Homo sapiens: one gene and its partners. The protein of the gene in region 1 interacts with the protein of each later gene in a biochemical or structural test. Each region holds a gene or a part of one and is shown on either strand. Other genes may lie near its edges. The genes, in order: NEDD4, SMAD3 and PTEN.

Evidence for each region.
Region 2: the proteins of NEDD4 (region 1) and SMAD3 interact in a test that uses a peptide from one of them, tested with the Homo sapiens proteins (3 studies listed by BioGRID and IntAct, with this or other methods).
Region 3: of the proteins of NEDD4 (region 1) and PTEN, one has a biochemical effect on the other in vitro, tested with the Homo sapiens proteins (7 studies listed by BioGRID, with this or other methods).

What each region holds. Positions count from the first base shown.
Region 1 is NC_000015.10:55,839,971-55,843,802, reverse strand, and holds part of NEDD4 (E3 ubiquitin-protein ligase NEDD4), read left to right. Parts: intron 1-1,639; coding exon 1,640-1,869; intron 1,870-3,075; coding exon 3,076-3,197; intron 3,198-3,285; coding exon 3,286-3,356; intron 3,357-3,832. UniProt on the Homo sapiens protein: E3 ubiquitin-protein ligase which accepts ubiquitin from an E2 ubiquitin-conjugating enzyme in the form of a thioester and then directly transfers the ubiquitin to targeted substrates. Specifically ubiquitinates 'Lys-63' in target proteins.
Region 2 is NC_000015.10:67,068,602-67,072,201, reverse strand, and holds part of SMAD3 (mothers against decapentaplegic homolog 3), read right to left. Parts: intron 1-3,600. UniProt on the Homo sapiens protein: Receptor-regulated SMAD (R-SMAD) that is an intracellular signal transducer and transcriptional modulator activated by TGF-beta (transforming growth factor) and activin type 1 receptor kinases.
Region 3 is NC_000010.11:87,866,500-87,870,331, forward strand, and holds part of PTEN (phosphatidylinositol 3,4,5-trisphosphate 3-phosphatase and dual-specificity protein phosphatase PTEN), read left to right. Parts: intron 1-3,832. UniProt on the Homo sapiens protein: Dual-specificity protein phosphatase, dephosphorylating tyrosine-, serine- and threonine-phosphorylated proteins.

The DNA of each region.
Region 1 (3,832 bases):
CTAGTATCCAGTCTAAAGTTGCTGTTCTGCAAGCTTACCATTTTTTTAATGACATAAGCAGTATAGGAAACTGCTCATATCATGCTTATATTGCTTATATCAACTGCTTACATTATTATGTTTCTATAGGGCTTTCCATTTTCCCTAAATAAATTGAGAATGAAATTGATTTTTTTTCCTTAGAGCTAACCTTCTTTTTTGGAGGTGACAGAATATTGATGGCATGTTTTCTCTTACTGGTTTCCCCTGGAAATTTGCCCATGAAGTACTGAGGAATAAAATATTTAGATATATCTTTTGTAAAATTTACAATAAGTTCTGCCTAAAGCATAGTTGTGTACATTTGTCACATAAGCAAAGAACGTACAAAAGATTAGTGAGGCAATGTAGCTCCATTAATTAAGAGCACAGACTCAGGAGCTAAGACTTTCTTAAGTCGTCTTCTTCAGTTTTATGTGTAAAATGAAGACAATAATAGTAGCTTTCGCATAGTGTTGTTATGAGGTTAAACACGTTAACCTGCCATTCCAGGGTACCCATGCCTGGCTGTTTTAGTCCGTTTTCATGCTGCTGATAAAGACATACCTGAGACCAGGCAATTTACAAAAGGAAGAGGTTTATTGGACCTACAGTTCTACATGGCTAGGGAGGCCTCACAATCATGGCAGAAGGCAAGGAGGAGCAAGTCACATCTTACATGGATGGCAGCAGGCAAAGAGAGAGCTTGTGCATAGAAACCATTAGATGTCGTGAGACCCATTCACTATCATGAGAACAGTGCAGGAAAGATCCGCCCCCATAATTCAATCACCTCCCACCAGGTTCTTCCCATGACACATGGAGATTGTGGGAGTTACAATTCAAGATTAGATTTGGGTAGGGACACAGCCAGAATATATCACTGGCACAGTCTGTAAATGTCACCATCTGTTAATGAGTGAAGCAAGATAGACTCCAGGGAGGAAAGTAGAGGTAGGGAAAAGCCTGAACAGACAGGCACAACAGCTAGCAGGCAGTGGCTATCCTACAGGTCACAGAACGGTGTTCATTGGAACTTAATATGAAAAGGACTGTTAACGAAATGCCTTCATGGGGGCATTACCATCACCATCAATTGCTTCTTTAGGCCGGGTGCCATGGCTTATGCCTGTAATCTCAGCACTTTGGGAGGCCAAGGCGGGAGGATTGCTAGAGCTTAGGAGTTTGAGACCAGCCTGGGCAAGATGGCAAGACCTCAAAAACTTAAAAAATTAGTCAGGCATGATGGCATGCGCCTGTGGTCCAGTTACTTAGGAATCGGAAGCAAGAGGATCACTTGAGCCCATGAGGTCGAGGCTGCAGTAAGCCATGTTCACGCCACTGCACTCCAGCCTGGACTACAGAGCTGTCTCCAAAAACAAAAGCTTCTTCAGATGTAAAGAAGTCTATATTACTAAGTGATTAAAGAAAATGCAGAAACTGTCTCATACCATAGAGGAAACCAAGACAATATACCTAGTTGTGTTTTCCCTGAGTATATTACGTAAGGAAAAAGAGACTTGGACACAGGGTGTAGAGGGAATGTTATAACTTTATGAGAGATGGGTTTGTTATTATGTTGAACTGATTTAAACAGTACGTCTCTCCTCTGGATTTTCAGAATGACATTCCAAACAAATTTGAAATGAAACTTCGCCGAGCAACTGTTCTTGAAGACTCTTACCGGAGAATTATGGGTGTCAAGAGAGCAGACTTCCTGAAGGCTCGACTGTGGATTGAGTTTGATGGTGAAAAGGGATTGGATTATGGAGGAGTTGCCAGAGAATGGTTCTTCCTGATCTCAAAGGAAATGTTTAACCCTTATTATGGGTTGTTTGAATATTCTGCTACGTAAGTACCTTTACAATGATTATCGGCAGAAAAAGAAAAATCACTGTTTTAAAAGTAAGAGTCGGCCGGGTGCAGTGGCTCATGCCTGTAATCCCAGCACTTTGGGAGGCCGAGGCGGGCGGATCACAAGGTCAGGATATCGAGACCATCCTAGCTAACACGGTGAAACCCCGTCTCTACTAAAAATACAAAAACTTACCCAGGCGTGGTGGCGGGCGCCTGTAGTCCCAGCTACTCAGGAGGCTGAGGCAGGAGAATGGCGTGAACCCGGAAGGCGGAGCCGAGATCACGCCACTGCACTCCAGCCTGGGCAACAGAGCAAGACTCCTCTAAAAAAAAAAGTTACCATTTTAGCCATTTTAAATATACAATTTAGAGTCATTACATACATTCACATTGTTGTGCTGCCATCCCACTATCCAACTCTAGAACTTTTTCATCTTCCCAAAATGAAACCCTATACCCAGTAAGCACTCGCTCCCCATTCCCTGGCAGCCACCATTCTGCTTTCTGTCCCTATGAATTTGACTCCTCGGGTACCTCACATAAGTGGAATCATTCAATATTTGTCTTTTTGTGACCAGCTCATTTCACTTAACATGATGTCTTCAGGGTTCATCCATGTTGTAGTATGTATCAGAATGTCCTTCCTTTTTAAGGCAGAATAATATTCCATTATTTTTGCATATAATGCTTTGTTTAGGCTGGGCGTGGTGGCTCATGCCTGTAATCCCACCACTTTGGGAGGCCAAGGCTGGTGGATCACAATGCCAGGAGTTCAAGACCAGCCTGACCAACATAGTGAAACCCTGTCTCTACTAAAAATACAAAAATTAACCAGGCATGGTGGCGGGCGCCTGTAATTCCAGCTACTTGGGAGGCTGAGACAGGAGAATCACTTGAACCTGGGAGGCGGAGGTTGCAGTGAGCTGTGACCGTGTCATTGCACTCCAGCCTGGGCGAGAGCAAGACTCCATCTCAAAAACAAACGAACAAACAAAACTTTGTTTATACATTCATCTGCCAAAGGACATTTGGGTTATTTCCACTTTTTGACAGAAATTACTATTTTTAAAACCATTAAATCCAGTGGAGGAATGTGGTTCTAACAGTGGTAAACAACTCTTAAAGGAGGAAGATTATTTGTAATTATTTGTCATATTAAAGTTTTTCAAATGAAGTATTTAAATGGGGTTGTCTTTACAGGGACAATTATACCCTACAGATAAATCCAAACTCTGGATTGTGTAACGAAGATCACCTCTCTTACTTCAAGTTTATTGGTCGGGTAGCTGGAATGGCAGTTTATCATGGCAAACTGTTGGATGGTTAGTATTAAGTATAAACTTTTTACAATATAATTACCTGTTTTCTTTCACTTGGTAATCATCCTAAATGTATTTGGTTTTTTGCAAGGTTTTTTCATCCGCCCATTTTACAAGATGATGCTTCACAAACCAATAACCCTTCATGATATGGAATCTGTGGTATGTCTTTTTCACTTATAGTATAGACGAAGTATAATTTAACAAGCAGCTTGAACATTTTGAAGAATTTGCTTTTAATGACATGGAAATTAATATATTATCATGTTTCAAAATACAAATGAACTTTTTCCTCAACATTTTATTATGAAAATTTTCTAACATATAATAAAGTTGGAAGAATTTTACATTGGACAGTTGTATATCAACTACTCACAATTGCTTTTTTTCTAGATTTACTTTATCACATACCTATCTGTCTATCCATCAGTCTGTCTTAGTTTCTTCATGCATTTCAGAGTAAGTTATAGATAACATTAAACATCCCACTAAATACTTCAATAGGTTATACCAAGTTATATGTCTTTTGAATCAGTATTTGCATTATGATCTTTTATGATGAATGTTATATATATATATATATATATATATATATATATATATATATATTTTTTTTTTTTTTTTTTTTTTTTTTTGAG
Region 2 (3,600 bases), about 11 Mb from region 1:
TTATTCCATTATAATAATACAGCAATCACATGTTTACATTATTAAACCAATATTTATTTTTTAACTCATTTAGTTGGATTCCTGATGTGATAAGCTTGAAACAAATTCTTTCAATTTCATCAACTTCTTGCATTTCTCATCAGAATTAAATGCGACTGTATTCATATTTTTCTGTTATTAAAATTGTCATTTAAAACTTCACCCTTGCAAAGACTTTTTAAAAAATATACCACTAAAAGCACCTATGTTCATTCAGAAACTCAGGCGTCTAGGATTTATTCTCAGCAAGTGTTAACTAGAGAAATGAGAAGCTAGGTCACACCGAAGCTTTGAATTTCAAAACAACCATCTGCAAGTTGTCCACTTTTCATTTATTTATTTATTTATTTTGAGACAGAGTCTCGCTCTGTCGCCCAGGCTGGAGTGCAGTGGCGCGATCTCGGCTCACTGCAAGCTCCGCCTCCTGGGTTCACGCCATTCTCTTGCCTCAGCCTCCCGAGTAGCTGGGACTACAGGCGCCTGCCACCAAGCTCGGCTAATTTTTTTGTATTTTTAGTAGAGACAGGGTTTCACCGTGTTAGCCAGAATGGTTGTGATCTCCTGACCTCGTGATCCGCCTGCCTCGGCCTCCCAAAGTGCTTGGGATTACAGGTGTGAGCCACCGTGCCCAGCCAAGTTGTCCACTTTTTATTAACACTCCCTGTCATATTCTGAGCTGATACATCTAAAGTCCCTGTTCCCACCAAGGAAACCTGAATTTCAGTTTGCAGTACTAACTTACTTTTTACTTCAAAGAGAAAATGCTTTACAGTGGAGTAAAATATAGCACCCAAGTCACTAGCTGTTCAGTGCCAGTTACAAGGTAACATATTTATAGCAGCACTCAGTTTAGTAAAAGAGGATAAAGACGTCCTCATTCTTATAGGGAACTATCCCCATGTACCAAAAAGTTCCCAACATCATACTGCAGTCCAAAAAGCTTCCTTTGGATAACCCTTGTCCCCTTCTTAGTTTTCCACCTCTCATGGGTTCTCCTCCTCTCTACACCTCCTCCCACAGAATTAACTGTGTTTCCACATTGCTGGGCACTTAGCACATTCCTCAGCTGCAGCTCATGCCTCATACCTTTGGGCAAGTCTGTCTCCCGCTCTAGACAGGGAGCTCTTTGAGTACAGGGACCCTGCTGTGGTCATTGTAGTATGTTCTCAACGAAGGACTGAATAATTCAATAATGAATGAATGATGCAGAATGAAGTATAAACGTAACATACCTGTCAAATTCTCTGGTTCACAAAACACTTCCACAGAACTTATCTCATCCTGACTTGACAGGTGCAGATATAAAAGCTGTGAAACTTAAATGGATTCCCAAATCCTTGCAGGTGGTAAAATGGCAGGTACAGGACCTGAATTTTGTGTTTTTTTCAGAAAAAAACAGATGCCTGTCATTATTTTATTTCCTAACATAGTGAATTCTACAATATTTAAAAGGCACATCAACGCCCGCCCCCATCAAAAATCATCCATACTAGATCTCATATTTCTACTGGTAGCTGGGAATGAGAAAGAGATAGCAGTTAGATACTCAAATAATGCCCTATTCATGTTTCCCTTACTGATGTGTAAGCTTCTCACAGGCTGGGAGCTTCTCAAACGTGTCTCTGCATCCTCCTCTGGTACCTAAAAAATTGACTCAGACATGGGAGGGTCCAATAAATATCAATAAATCAACAAAATCCAGCCCTGTAACAACAGAGGGGCTGTCTGCAAACATTCCACTCCCAGGTGCAAGCAGCATGTTCCAAGGTTCTAAATGTTCCCAGGGAACGTCAAGTGGCGCCTAGGTTCAGCTGCAGCTGAGTCAGATCCCTCATCAGCTACCTATTGTCCTGCAGGCACCTCCTCTTCTCAGGCCCTACGTGGAACTCCCCTAATCAAACTTAACAAGAGCAAAGAGATAATGGACCACCTCCCTAGCAGCTGGAAGGGGGCTTGCTTCCAATGGGCCACACGGGCATGGTGCTCTGAAGTGCAGCCAAGAGAAAAGGGAGGCCTCTACAGCCTTAGTAATAGGTCTATCCCCAGAAATCTGGAAAAGGCATGTTAAAGACTAGGATCTTTTTCCTTTCTCAAAGTGAGAGTACCCTGGCAAAAGTCAAGGAGATAATAAGAGGAGGCTACAGTAAAAGATCAGATTCGGTGAGGCGCGGTGGCTCACGCCTGTAATCCCAGCACTTTGGCAGGCCAAGGCGGGCAGATCACAAGGTCAGGAGTTCAACACCAGCCTGACCAACATGGTGAAACCCCGTCTCTACTAAAAATACAAAAATTAGCTGGGCGTGGTGGCGGGCGCCTGTAATCCCAGCTACTCGGGAGGCTGAGGCACAAGAATCGCTTGAACCGGGAGGCAGAGGTTGCAGTGAGCTAAGATCATGCCACTGCGCTCCAGCCTGGGCAACAAGGCAAGACTCTGTCTCCAAAAAAAAAACATCAGATTCACAGGGAGGGAGTAGATGCTGTGTGTCAGACCTAGTGTTTGCTTCAATTCTCCAATTTTCCACTGGACTGGGTGCTCTGACACAAGAAAGCCCAAATTCCCTTCCAAACAAGCAATGCTTTAAGCTTGGTCTAGCTCCCAACAACGAGGCCAAGGCATGGATTCCCTGGTGGAAGTACAAGCTACCAGTGTCTACCAGAAAACTAAGTTTTAAGTGTGCCGAGCTCCTTATTCCTCATATAACGCTCACACACCAACTCTCATTCAGCGGCAAATGCTTTGATTCCATTCTTATAAACTGGCAAGGAAGATACCTGCAGCTTTACTCAGGTACTCAAGCAGGTGAGGCATGAGAGGCTGTTATAAAACTTGTGTAAATTCTGCCAATCCTGCCAGACCTCAGAGTATCCTGACAGCCCCTTTGTTGGTGTATCTAAATGAAGCTCTTACCACTTCCTTGGCACCAATCTCTTTCACCTTCTTTATGTCGATAAGTGTGTATCACGCCAGCTCCCCTGATAATTGAAACAAGTCAGAGCTGGTGTCACAGAGAAGCAAGCCTGTGGTCTGGAAGTCCCTAGTATACAGCTCTAATTGCCAAATGTTGCTGTTGCTGCTCATGATTATATATTAGCCAAAACACACTTGGCTTAATCTCCTTAGACTGAGGGCTCCTTAAACCCCGGAGTCCAGATCTTGCAGAGTGTTTTTAAGCACCCAGTGACCAACCCCCCACACACAGGGGGAATGACTAAGTTAAACATTTTCCTTTCTCTACTTTCCAAACTAAAAGGCAGTTGTGGTGAAAGCAGACAATTTGACAAGCAACACTGCAATCTATGGGGCTTAGCAGACACATTGATATCACCAGCACAGGGCCAAACCAGCCACCTCCCCAAGACGTGGCCTTTAGTTTTCTGCCCACGACCAAAACAGCAGCAGCTGTTGCCAAGGGACACAAGGTGACCCAGAGGCGTGGGCACAAAATCCAAGGATGAAAATCCATTTTGTCTGGATCCACCCAAGCAACTGGGTTTCCCTAACTGAAAAAAAAGATGAAAAAAAAAATCTACTTTTGTATTCAGTCCTATCCAGGCAGGCAG
Region 3 (3,832 bases), on another chromosome or scaffold:
AAAAAATTAAATGTTTATGTAACTTTGAAAAAAAAGCCTTTGAAGAAAATAATTGAATGCTGTCTGGGAGACAGATTTCTTTCAGCACTTAAAGTACATAACACACTACTTTTACTTTTCCCACTTGATTTTAAATTATCAGGGTTATTAAGACCTTAAAATTATTTTACCAGGTTTTTACATGTGAGCTGTGACATGACTGGCATTTTCTTTGATTTCAGCGTATGTTGGTCTCTACACATGAAATTTGTGTGACTTAAAACTTTCTCTAAAACTGTACTTTTAGTTATGATATGCATAGAAAGCAGTATCAAATATTGCGTCAAATGACTAATAACACTTAATTTCTAGAGTTGTGGTTTTATTGAGCCAAAAGTTGATATGAAAAAAAGTCAGTAAGGAAAGTCAGTGAAGTGCTTGCTTTTTTGATAATTGCACTCCCAATAATTTTGATATTCCAACGTACTTGGTTTGCTTGTTTTCACGTTAATGTTTTCTGTTTATTGGAGTGGGAAGGCATTAAAATTGTCATTGAAGACTTTGTCTTTGACATGTTGTAGTATTTATTTCAGTAACTAACCTGTGAAAAGTTAAATTCCTTTATGAAAGTAGTGATTGGAGTATTTTTATCTGATAAAGAAAGATTAATAATGAAGCCATTTCTCCGAGGAAAATTGAGGACAATAATTCAGTTTTAAAATATTATCGCAAAATTAAATTATTCTAAAAATTTGTTAGTAGGGTTATATGCTTAATATTAGTCTGAAATATAGTGCTGAATTTGAGACTATAGAAAAATTAAGTGTATTTAGGGTATGTGGAAACGTTAGGCTTCTGTTGTATTTTTATTGTTTGGTAGATTTGCCTCTTTTCAAATAAATGTTCACAGGGAATACTTTTAACTTGTAGAGAGTACAGTGACTATTGAAGTTACCTAAATTACCTCAAGGTAAGTGATTACTGAAATTAATCATGAGGGTTTTAAAAAGTATTCTATTCACAACATTTATTTTACATTGTTTTGTATCTGCTAAGTTATATTTCCTGAAAAACATGACTGGACCACCTAATTGCTGTATGATAACTTACAAACTTCATTTTTCATAGTGCTTATTCAAGTGTAAAGCACAACTGAAAGGAGTAATGTACAGTTTATATGAGGAAAAAGGAATTTTATTGCTGCCAGTGTAAAAGTTTGCACAGCAGTATAGTCATCAATGCAGATTTACATTGCTTATAATATACTAAGTAAATACTAAATGATTAAAGATAATAAAATATGGTGAGGTATAACCACCTTCATTTTAAACTTAGTTTTAGAAGATAGTAAAGAAAGATTCCTTTATTACCTTTTTAGAATTTTATTTTTAATAACATGGGAAAGGCAACTGGTGATATTTTAATTTTTGTATGGAACAGTGCATCTGCTTTCTCATAGCCACATAAAATACATAAACTTCTTAGTGTTATGAAATGGCTTACTTTTTGGAAGTGAAGAAGTCTTCAATTCTTATTTTCTAATGTTATTTTGAAATTTGCCTCCATTTGCTGTTTGTTCATTTGGTGATAGCGCAACACTTAAAAAAATATTTTAAGCCGCTTCTGAAGTAATCACTTCAGTGACTTTTAATGGAGGAGTATTTGTTATGGGAAATTCACTTCACAAAGTTTTAACATTAATTCACTTGAAGTAAACGTGCTATTTTTAAATTTTCATCTCAATCTTTTAAGTAAGACGAAAGCTTAGGAAATCACTTTTATTATTGATATTGTGTGTGACTTCAGAGTTTGTAAAGAGAATTGTAGAAGTGTTGCATGCATATGACAATTTTCTGCTTAATTGAAATGTGAGGCCTCTGCCATACTACAAGGATTTAGCTTCCAGAAAATGTAATATTAACATAGCTTAAGAAATGTATTTTTTTTTTTCTGTAGAAACCGTTGGGTTAAACAAACAGTTCAGAAGTTTTATTACATGGAACCCATTAGTTCTTAATCTTGTTACCTTTTTCTTCATTTTTTCTGTTAAACTTGATTTTCACAGTCAGCATTGAAGAATTCATCTTGTGGCCTGAATTCATTAAGAAAAGATGTTAGGATTTGTTCTGAAGATAGTGACTTAGGAAATTTGTGAGACTGGGGTCAGTCAGTTCTGTTTTACAATTGCTTTCTATTTGGTAGCTTTGAAATTAATTTAGTTGCTTATCAGAGAGAATAATGTTGAGGTTAGACTAACCTTAAATTGGTAAGGCTTTGCTGAGCAAACTGATAACTGTAAGTCTTTTATAGGGTGCATTACTGCCACATATACGTTCTTCCATAGGTGGTTAAAAGTATATTGGTCTGTGTTTGGTGATTCTCTTTGTACATATTGAGTATATGCATTCACTAATGTAAAATAATTTGCCAAGAAAGGTGAAATTAGTATATTGTACTTGACTATTCACCTTTCCCTTAGTTTTTTGAATTTTTTTCATTGGTTGCAGAGGAAGTATTAGCAATTTAATTCTTTTAAAATAATTTGCACTGGAATAAATAAGTATCGGCAAATATAAGAAGAGTAACATAATTTAAGGGTGAATTAATTTTATTTGGGAAGTTTTAGTTCTGTATAGTTAAGGCAGATTCTTCATTTGCAACAGTTGACATTGGGACATGTGTGAACATCTTCAAGGTATTAGGACATCTTCAAGGCATTACTTTTTGGCAGTGTTGAGAATTTTTTTTTTTTTTTTTTTTTTTTTGAGATGGAATCTCGCTCTATCGCCCAGTCTGGGGTGCAGTGGCAGGATCTCGGCTCACTGGAACCTCTGCCTCCCAGGTTCAGGCGATTCTCCTGCCTGAACCTCCCAAGCAGCTGGGATTATAGGTGCATGCCACCACGCCCAGATAGTTTTTGTACTTTTAGTAGAGATGGGGTTTTACCACCTTGGCCAGGCTGGTCTCAAACTCCAGACCTCAAGTGATCCGCCTGCCTCGGCCTCCCAAAATGCTGGGATTACAGGCGTGAGCCACTGCGCCTGGCCAGTGTTGAGAATATTGAGAGATGGATATTGTAGCTGTACCTGCCATCAAAAGAATTTTCTTGACCTCCACATAGTGTGAAAAAGAAGACTGTTTACACATTATATTTTAAGTAATTATACACATAATTATTATCAGTACTCACCACTTCAAATATGAACAGTGAATCTAACCAGTGTTTGATTTCTCTGTGTGTGTATGTGTATACAAAGTTAGCAAACCTTTTATCTTAATATTTATTAAAAAACGAATTTTTGTTTCTTTAAAGAAAAGACTACCTTAGAGAATATTGTTCTATAGTTTTTAAATATGGTCAGATCTATTTTAAATTATGTTAAAATTTTGAGTATTACGTTTATCTATACTTTTAAGCATATATACATTGTTTCATTTTAGATTTTAGGGAGGCAGTGTGGGCTCTGGAGCCAGACTGCTTGTTTTGTAATCCTGGATCTTCCATTTAGTAGCTGGATGACTTTGAGTAGGTTATTTAGATTTTCTCAATCTATTTTATCTGTAAAATGGGGATGATAATGGAACCTACCGCATACGTTTATCTTGAATAGTAAGTGAGATAATAATAAGTAATTTCATTTAGCATAGTACCTGCCACATTGTAAATACTTAAATGGTAGCTACTGCTCTGAAAAACTGTAATTTCAGGTTATGTATGTAGGGAAATTATTTGTATTTTCATTTATGGTGTATGATTGTAACTGAATTTCCTCAGTTTGGGCCATGTTAGGATTTTGTTTCAAGTTATAAGTGTTTTTAAAAATAAGGGTATTCCTTTAGGAAGTCTGGGTAT